Linked DNA regions of Homo sapiens: region 2 is linked to region 1. The links come from fine-mapping of genetic effects on gene expression. Tissue or cell type: prefrontal cortex. Region 1 holds a variant in brackets; the other region holds the start of a gene. All regions are shown on one strand. Distances are between the middles of the regions.

Evidence for each region. PIP is the estimated chance that this variant, and not a neighbour inherited with it, causes the effect. A credible set is the group of variants that fine-mapping cannot tell apart.
Region 2: it holds the start of LYZL4, and the variant in region 1 is the best candidate, but not a certain one, in a credible set for the expression of LYZL4 in prefrontal cortex (BrainSeq, PIP 0.54).

What each region holds. Positions count from the first base shown.
Region 1 is chr3:42,470,757-42,475,903 of GRCh38, forward strand. It overlaps LOC124909371 (a long non-coding RNA gene), which reads right to left and starts at 2,925. Exons shown (of 2, transcript XR_007095891.1): 1 at 2,838-2,925. The variant G/A (reference allele first, on the strand shown) is at 2,874.
Region 2 is chr3:42,408,286-42,413,432 of GRCh38, forward strand. It overlaps LYZL4 (lysozyme like 4), which reads right to left and starts at 2,325. Exons shown (of 5, transcript NM_144634.4): 1 at 2,132-2,325.

The DNA.
Region 1 (5,147 bases):
CCACGTAATATATATATATATAGAGAGAGAGAGTACTAGAATTTCTAACCACTGCAATAAAAGAAGAAAAATAAATAAAATGTTGCCCAGGCTGGTCTCAAGCGATCTGCCTGCCTCAGGCTCCCAAAGTGCTAGGATTACAGTGGACTGCACCATTGCACTCCAGCCTGGGTGACAGAGTGAGACTCTGTCTCAAAAAAAAAAAAAAAAAAAAAAAAAAAATATATATATATATATATACACACACATATATATACACATATATATACATATATACACATATATATATACACATATATATACATATATACACACATATATATATACACATATATATACATATATACACATATATACATATATATACACATATATATACATATATATACACACACATATATATATATAGTACTAGAATTTCTAACCCCTGCAATAAAAGAAGAAAAATAAATAGATTGAGAAGGAAAAAATAAAACTGTTTCTATCAGAAATGATACAACTGTCTATGTAGAAAATCACAAGCAATCTTTTTAAAAAATCCTCCAAATAAGAAGTGAGTCTAGCAAAGTAGCAGAACACAAGATCAACGAACAAAAATCAACCACATTTTTTTTTTTTTTTGAGACAGAGTCTCACACTGTCACCCAGGCTGGAGTGCAGTGGCGTGATCTCAGCTCACTGCAACCTCCATCTCCCGGGTTCAAGCGATTCTCCTGCCTCAGCCTCCTGAGTAGCTGGGACTACAAGTGTGCGCCACCATGCCCAGCTAATTTTTGTATTTTTAATAGAGACGGGGTTTCACAATGCTGGCCAGGATGGTCTCGATCTCTTGACTTCATGATCCACACACCTCGGCCTCCCTAAGTGCTGGGATTACAGTTGTGTAATGACATTACAGCTGGAAATGACAGTTGTGTCATTTCCAATAGGAACAGCCTGGGCAACGGAGTAAGACCCTTCCTTGAAAAAACGAAAAATAAACCAAAAACCCCCCGCAAATAACAAAGGGAAGAAAAGATAATTTTAAAGTGAAAAAATCTGGGAGATACTACCTTAGCCAAGTGATCAAAGTTAGTATTACCAGTAATGGGACAGTCCTGGCTCACTGCAGCCTTCATGTCCGGAAAGCAAGCATCAATCCTCCCACCTTAGCCCCCCCAAGTAGCTGGAACTACAGGAATGCACCACCACACCCAACTAATTATTGTATTTTTTGTAGAGGTGGGGTTTCACCATGTTGCCCAGGCTGGTCTCAAGCTATCTGCCCGCCTCAGCCTCCCAAAAGTGCTGGGATTACAGGCATGAGACAGGATGCCCGGCCTGCTTATGCTATTTTTAATGTCCGAATAATCCACATAATGGTTTTTGTTTTAGTGTACATGGTTATATGTTACTATTATGAATTAGGAAGAATTTTATATTTGAAACAATTTTTTTTATAGGATCTTGCTCTGCTGCCTAGGCTAGAGTGCAGTGGTGCAATCATAGCTCACTGCAGCCTCAGGGATCCTCCTACCTCAGCCTCCTAAGTATCTACAACTACAGGTGTGTGCCACTGTGCCTGGCTAATTTTTAAAAAATTTTTTTTGCAGAGACAGGATCTTGCCATATTGCCCAGGCTAGTCTTGAACTCCTGGCGTCAAGCAATTTCCCGAACTCAGCCTCCAAAACTGCTGGAATTACAGGTGTGAGCTGCCGTACCCAGCTCGAATTCTTAATTGAAAATGTTGCATAAGCCCACCAATAAAATAAAATAGTTTGTTAATGAATATGTAAATATTTGTGTAATATACATAATTTAAAGCATGTCCCGGTACTCTCTTAAAGTGTCTACATTTGGACACTTGAGGCTATGTGCCTGGGAATTCATTGCAAAATTGCCCTTGAGGTGGTTGAAGTCAGACATTCAGGCAGAGATGATAGTGATGGCTCCAGGGCAGCCTTCAGCCCTGCTTTCAGTCACCCTCCACCCACCACCCCTTCCCCCACATGCTCAACTCAGAGCCCTGGGTCCCAAAACAGATACACTCCATTAACAAGCAAGGGTATGCCCTCCCACTCCAAACGGCCAACAGGCAAAAGACCAGAACCAACAAATATCTGGAGGGATTTGGGTTCTTCTGAGCAGACTCATCACCCACCTCCCTTCTCTTTTCCCCCTGCCCTCCCTCTCTCCTCCTTCCCTTAAACACCTTCATTCCACGGGTGACAACACTGAGGTCCAGAAGGGGCAGAGGCTGAATTAATGGCATGGTCAAGATCACCACAGAGCCAGGACTCAACCTATCCTTCTGGTTTCAGGAGAGCCCTGCAATGGTGTAGGAGGCAGGAATCTTGGCTTAGGATTCACCTGCCCTGGCTTTCAACAGGCTGCTCACTCCAGCCTGGAGCAAGCCACTGTGCCCATCAGGACCCAGCCCATGTAGCTCCTGACTGGGCTTCCAGGAAGGGCTGCGTGGCACAGCCCGTGGTTCCCTGCCCCCTGCAACCTGCAGCACACCACCCTGTGCCCAGGGGTGAAGTGCTCTCAAACAACTGCTCTGGTCACCAATCCCCACCCCAACCCTCAAAGCAAAGTCTCCACCCTCCCTGTTCCTGGACGATTCATTTCATCCTGTTTCCTCCTCCAGGAGCCTGGTTAGAGGCGTCTGAAAGGCAGCTCATCCCTCCTTGGCAAACTCCCTCTCCCACTCTGGAAGACAAAGAGGCTGTTGACTCCTCCCTGGCAGTAAGGAGCACCCAGCCCTTGGGAACTAGGCTCCTGGGAAGGTGGGTTTGCCTCTCCTCCCTTCCCAATGGGTCTTTGGCAAAAAGAAGCAACTCTTCCTGTGACATACCTAAATCACTCCTGCTGCTTCCAGCCAGTTCCCTCC[G/A]GCTCCACGGAAAAGCCATTATGCAACTCCAGGCTTTGCGTGCATGTGAAGTGGCTGGTGCTGGTCAGGACATCTGTTCTTCAAGATGGAATGTGTGCCCATTGTCCAGTGCAGATAACCCAGACCCCAGCCTGTAACCCTGAGAGGAAGACGGAAGCTGGCTCCTCTCCAACACGTCACCGCACTGCATGCCTCACCAGAGCACAGATGGTGGCATTCCAAGTGCTGAGGAGCCCCTGACACTTACACAGAGTTTAGCTATCTTCCAGGGAAGCAGGATTTTGTGGGGGCTCTAAATTCATCTATGACTTAAGCAACAGTTCTCTGTTAACCAGACCTTGGGTTACCCAGAGCATGCTCTCCCCTGGCTTCAGCAGCCAGCAGGGAGAGCCTTCTTTGGGAGCCAGGGACGTGGGGGTGCTCCTGGGTTCCCAGACCTCCAGAGAGATCATAAGAAAGTGGGAAAAGAACCTCAAGCTCCAGCCCAGCCCCACACTGTGTGGTGTGTAGCTTGGAGCTCTTTGGATTTCAGCTTCCTCAGAGATGGGCAGACAATCTCTCAGACTGTCCAGCTTAGGGACTGTCTCTTGTTTCTAACACATATGTCATCTATTGGCTCCCCAAAACATACCCTGCTCTGTCCTCTGCCTCCATAGAATACGGGCTAGGAGGTTAAACCATCCTCCAAACCACCAGGGTCTGAAACTTCCAGCCCTTCCCCCAAAACAAAGATATATTGCAGTTCCAGAGGGGGACTATGCTTCTCAGTCCTGGGGCCACAAAGATCCCCCAGCCAAATCTCACCTCCCACATATGGTACAAAAAGGCAAAGTACACATACAGGGCCTAAAGACCGTGACATCAGAGCACAGGAGGGAGGCAGGATAGGAGCTGTGGGAACAGTCCATTCTTATTCACTATGTGAGCTTCCCCAGGTCCCTTAGCCTCTCCCAGCCTCAATTTCTTCAACAATATAATGGGCACAAGTATACACCCCAACAGAGCCCAGGGTGTGGCCCAGAGTCTCCTTAATACTTACTCAGTTCTGCTCCCTGCCCAACAGGTCACTGCTCTGCCCACCCTGTGCTTCTTCTCATGCCACAGGGAAAACTGGACCAGCCACCCCCTTCTCATAGGGAAATCCTGCAATCCCATCATTCGGAGTGATGATCAAGCCCGGACATAGCCTTCATTTATGAAGGCCTGGTCCAGCAGGAATTGTGCACTCCTTTCTCTGAGCCAAAAAGAGGAGTAGGATTGAGTAGCACCTGAATAAATAGAAATTTCTGCCTTTACCCCAGATAAGCAGAGTGGCTTTGCTGAGTATAAGAAACAAACTCTGGGTCCCCTTCATGCTGTTTTCTCCATCCCCCAGTGTAGTTACCTTATTTCATGAGGAGAACCCAGGGTCTTGATAGCTTTGGGCTCACTGTGGCTCCTGGAAAGGGCTGTGCTTGTTTCTGAAAACCAACTGATTGGTTCTCATTATCAATCTAACAAAATCCCAGTCCCTTTCTAGCATGTCCCTGGAGCTCTGTCCTCATGCCTGACCTGAGATCACACCCTGACCCTGACCCACACTCAGCCCTGACCTTGTAGAGGCTGGGACTTCAAAAGGAGTCTGAACCCAGCGAGACAGAAGTATCTACACAATACTGAAACGCTGTTACTAGAGCTTCTCTCTCCCTTACTGGCTTTGACGAAGCAAGCAACCATGTTGGGGAACCTCACATGTCAAGGAGCTCAGGCAGCCTCGAGAACCACGGGCAGCCTCCAGCTAACAGCCTTCAAGGACCTCCAGCAGCCAGCAAGAAAGTGAGGTCCTTGGTCCTATAGCCGCAAGAAACAATTCTGTCAACAACTACATGAGCTTGGAAGCAGACCCTTCCCCAGCTGGGCCTCAGGTAAAACCACAGCCTTGACTGATTCCTGCATTGCAGCCTTGTGAGACTCTGAATTACAGGACCCAGCTGAACTTAGCTGGGTTCTGAATTACAGAACCCAGCTAAGACTCCTGATCACGAAAACTGTGAGATAATAAGTATTCATTGTTTTATGCTGCTAAGTTTGGGGTCATTTGCTACACAATAGATAGCTAATATAGAGCTGTACTGGGAAGTCTTGACAGAACTTCAGGTCATTGAGATAGCTAAGGGTGGTCAAAATATTAGGCAGCCGTTGCGGCAGGGTAGTGTGAAATAGATAACAGCTACATTTTACTGAGCACTTACTATGTGCCATGCACTGTGCTAAATGCTTTCCGTGTGCTAACTC
Region 2 (5,147 bases), 62 kb before region 1:
CCACCCTTTATCAGGACGAATCTATTAAGTAAACTCAGAATTCTCATGGCACTCCCTCTCTGGATGCCTCTGCACCTCCCCACTCCATTCTCCAGGGAGCTGTGCCCTCATGCATGGTTCTTCCCAATGCACAGGGCCCTACCATGCCTTTCCCCATTCAAATGTTGCTGCATCTTGAGGCCTCACCCCGGGTGCCAACTTCTTGAATCCTGATGGATCCTCCATAAAAGTTCCATTTTCCCTCTGAGCCCCTATTGCTCTCAGAGTCTCTTCCATGACACACTGCAGATGATTGTCCTGTTTTGTGCTCTGTCCCATTCCTCAGACTAGAATGTGCAATTGGAAATTGGAACTCATCTTCCTCCTGGAATACCCCATAGCCCCTAGCACTCCATCGTTATATATCAATTGGACAATTCATTGCACCCTCCTGTTTGTCACCGTTCACAGGTGCATGTCTTCCTGGCTGTATACACCTACACCGGGGGTTCTCAACCTTGGCACTTGGGCTGGAATATGCTTAGTTCTGGGAACATCCTGTGCATTGGATTGTTTAGGAGTACACCTGGCCTCTAGATGCTAGTAGCTCTGCCTCCAAATTATGTCAGACAAAAATGTTCCTATGGGACAAAATTGCCCCCTGTTGAGAAATGTCTAACTTGGGCAAAAGTTAGAAATAAGTGTATTCATGAATTAGAAGAATCATACTTTCAAACGTTTGTTCAAACTCTCAAGCTGTATGATTAGTTGCAGACATGACCAGTACACCAAATACAGTATCTAGGAGGGCCTTGCATTTAAGAGCTCAGACTTGGGAATCAGATTGCCTGGGTCCAAGTTCCAGCTTTACCCCTCAGTGGCTGAGATATCAGTGATCCCAGCAGTAATCTTAGACAAATTGCTCAACCTCTTGATTCCTCAGTTTCCTCATCTGTAACACAGATTAAAACAGTACTTAATTAATTGTGTTGATTTGAAGAGTAAGTGAATTAAATATGCACAGCACTAGATTTTACTTGTATGGACATTTTTCTTAGCTCTGGTTGCACCCCTGCCCTTTTATACTGATGTATCAAACCTGTACATTGTGCACATGTACCCTGGAACTTAAATTATAATAATTAAAAAAAGTGAATCTCAATGCATGTTTCATTTCCCAACAGAGCAAACAACATTTTCTGGTAATGTCTGTCTTCCACAGGGCAGGCATCATCTCAACTCGTAGAAGGCATACTGAGTCCTCTCCTCCCCTCTCCCCCAGAAGCCAGTTCATCAGGTTCATCAGGGTGTGCCATCTACAGTTCTTCCAGAACCTATTCGCCTCTCATCTTTTCTGCCATCATCCTAATCCAGACCACCATCACCTCTAAGGTGGAGACTTTCTAACTACACTCCTCTACTACATACTCCTCTCTGTTCCCCTAAACCCACTGCCCACACAGCAGTTGGAAAGGCATTTTATAAAGCATGTGTCCAGTCACATCACTAATCTCCAGTGGATTCCCCTTGCACTTTGAATAAGGTCCCAACTCCTCAACCTGGCTGACAAGACTTTCTGATGCAGCCACTGAGCACCTCTCCAGTCTGAATTTACATCACTCTCTCCTTTGTTCACCTTCACTCTGCCATAGTCACCTTGCACATTTCTTTTCCTTGAATATGCCAATTTCATTCCCACCACAGGTCCTTTGCACCAGCCATTCCTTCTACCTGGAACATGACTGCCCTGACCACCACATACGAGCTCACTACCTCAAAGAAGATTCCTTGATCACTGCCCCATCAAAGAAGACGGTCTTTATTTTCTTCATACCATTAATCAATATCAGGAATTCCATTGCTCATTTATCTGTTCACTTGCTTATTTTCTCTCTCCCATACCTGAGTGTAAGCACCAGGAATGCAGAAACCTGGTCTGGTTTTTTCTCTTCATTATCCCCAGAACTCAGAACAGAACCTAATACAGAGTAGGTGCTCAATGAAACTTTGTTGAATGAATGAATGAACAAAAACCTCCTCTTCCCAACTGAACTGTCATCAAATAAGCAATAAGTGAATTTGCTGATGAGCTTCTCCTGCAGCTGGGTATTGTCATGCCCGTTACCCTCCTGCCCACCATATACCCGCCTACCAGTCCACCAGCCCTTCCAAAGGCTGGCTTTTGGTGCCTTTCCAAGGGGAGGGGAAGAACAGCCACTGCAGCAGCTTCGACGTGTGTTGCAGGGAAGTTGCTCCACCTACATTTGGTTCCTTGGGTTTTTCAGATGCTACTTCATTAATCATCCACTTGTCTGCACCCAAGAGTTCTCCATGACATGCTCTTCTAGAATCCTTTCTATGACATCAGTTGCTATGCACCAGGATATTCTGAAAAAGGGAGGGTCTGTCACTGTCACATTTGTATTAGTTTTCTATTGCTGCTGAAATACATTACCACAAATTTAGTGGCTTAAACAACACAATTTATTATCTTAAAGTTCTATAGCCCTGAAGTCAGAAATGGGTCTCACAGGCCTAAAATTAAGGTGTCAGCAGGGCTGTGCTCCTTCCCAAAGGCTTTAGAAGAGGATTCATTCCCTTGCTCATTGAGGTTGTTGGCAGAATAAAGTTTCTGCAGTCACAGGGCTGAGTTCCCTGTTTCCTTGCTGGCTGTCGGCTAAGGGCCATTCCCAGCTGCTAAGCACTGTCTGCATTTCTTAGCTCTGTTGCCTTCCTCTATCTTCAAAGCCAGCAAGGGTGAGTCAAACCCTCTCACACTTTGAATTTCTCTTGCCTCTTCTTCTGTCATTGTATCTTTCTGACCCTCTTTTCTTCCTCCCCTTCCCTGTCTAAGGACTCATGATTAGATTGGTCCAGCCGGACCATCCAGGATAACCTCTGCTTCTCAAAGTCTTTAACCTTAAACACATCTGCAAAGTCTCTTTTGCCATGCAAACTAACACATTCAGAGGTTCCAGGGGTGAGTGTTACCGAACAAAAGTGATTCAATGCATTGGAAGCCAACGCTATGACACTGGGTGTTTGAGAAAAGGCTTTTTATTGAAATATAAATATTTAATTTTAAATATATAATCAATATATTGTCGATTTTCAAGGAGACAGCAGTGTCAACCTCAAATCTGTCTCCTGTGATGCAGTATTTTTATTAGAAAAAGTTTAGGGGATTCTAAGATTAGTAGGTGATTTGGTGGAAGAAAGGGAAGGGCTGGAAAGTCCTGGGTCATATGCAGTTATCTCTTCATACTATTTTATGGGTCCCCTGGGCAATTATGGGGAAAGTTAGTATAAAGCACATGGTGGAAATTTAGTCTGTGACATCAGCAAGCTGGTTCTGCCTAGACTCTGGTCGGCCATCTTGGTTCCAGCTGATTTCAGCCAGTTCTTATATCTCATAAGCAGAGGGAGTTTCAGTATTTCAGCAAGTTGTTTCTTTTCTTACCTGCCATCCTGCAAACTCAAGAATTTCTGTTAGTCATTGGTTTTTTTAACTCTTTGGGGCATGGCTTCATTAGGACACCTTTGGGAGATCAGTATTCTGCCTGCTACAGCATTCTTCCGGGCCCTCATAGGACTGCCTTCTAGGTGGAACAGTGGGAGAAGCCCTTATGTAGCTTTCCTAGTCACCAGAGGGCCATGGTCAAAGACATCCTCTCTTGGGGCCTGGGCATCTTCATCTGTGACTTGAGGGCATCAGACTGGGTTATCTTTAAGGTCCTTTTCAGCTCCAAAAGTTAAGAGATATTGAGATGATTGAGGGCAAATTGGCCTTTTGAAAACACATTAGTCTGTCTGGCTGACTCAATTAGAACTGGTAATTAGTCGATTAATTGAAAATTAATAATGTAAAGAATCATAAAAGAAAAACTAAAACCAGGCCATAAACGCTGAGGCTTAAATCCATACATGCCTATTTTCTCAACAGTCTTTAGTGTTGGCTCAGCTGGAGGCTGGTTGGCAGAAAACTAAGGTGTTTTCACAGAAATCAGTTAATCGAGAAACATTCCATCTGCAGAAACTCCCACCTCTGAAGGCATAATAGTGGAAATATTCTCCTCATCCACAGCGGTAGACAGTTTGAAAAAAAAAAAAAAAAGGCCACAATTTTACAGTCTTCTCTGTATCTGTGCCCCTTGGCTTTGCAACTTAGCTGCTCCCATCAAGGGATGCCATCCACTCCCCACCCCAGGGGTTGGGTTGGCCTGTCTTGCTCTGACAATAGATCACAGTGGAATGAGGTAGTACTAATCCTAGGCCTCAGGAAGCCTGATGGCCTCTGCTCACCCTGAGCTCTGCCACCACCACATGAACATGCCTGGCCTCATCTTGCAAGAAATGAGTGGCACCAGTCACCCCTATTGCTACAGTGGATGACAGTTAACTGCCACACATGGAAGATCACCCTAGGCTGGCCAGCCCCCAGCTGACCATAGATACATGAATGATGACAGCCATGATCAATCAAGTCCAGTCAAGATAAGCAGAAGTGTCCAGTTGACCCTCAGCCTAGTAAGCAATGATGAATATTTCTTGCATTTAGCCACTGTTGTAAGTCTGGGGTGAGGAGGTTGTTACACAGCAATTGATAACGGACACATCCCCTCAGCTCCATGCTCTTGCTTTGGTCTGCGCCTCCAGGCAACCATCTGTCTGGGCCCCTAGCACACGGGCCATCTGCTCTGGAGCCTATTGACAAGCACCAACTGTTCTGCGGAATCAACTGGGCAAGCTGTGCCGCAATCACACAACTTCCAGCAAAGGTCTTATTCCCAGAGGAAAGGGAATTGCCCTTCTTTCCCGATATGACATTTACCTTTCCCAGAAAAATTGACCTAGGAGCCCTCATGGTGCAGGGGCCTCCTCAGGCAAAAACCCCAGGGTTTGCTGCCCTGTTATTTGCCCTGTTGAGTTACTGGGTGTGACTGGATGCAATAGGCTTTGTTACCAATGGGGTTTAGTGCACTGGCTGTATACACTGAGTAAACTGGGCAGAATCCTCTCTTTCTTAGAGCTATGGCTTATTATATTGGCCACATCCAAGCACCTGAGAATCCTTCTTAGACCCTAAAAAATGTGCTAGAAATTGTGGCAAGTGTTGGGCACATCAAAGTGAGCTCATAGCACAGTGTGGTACTTACATAGGTTAAAAA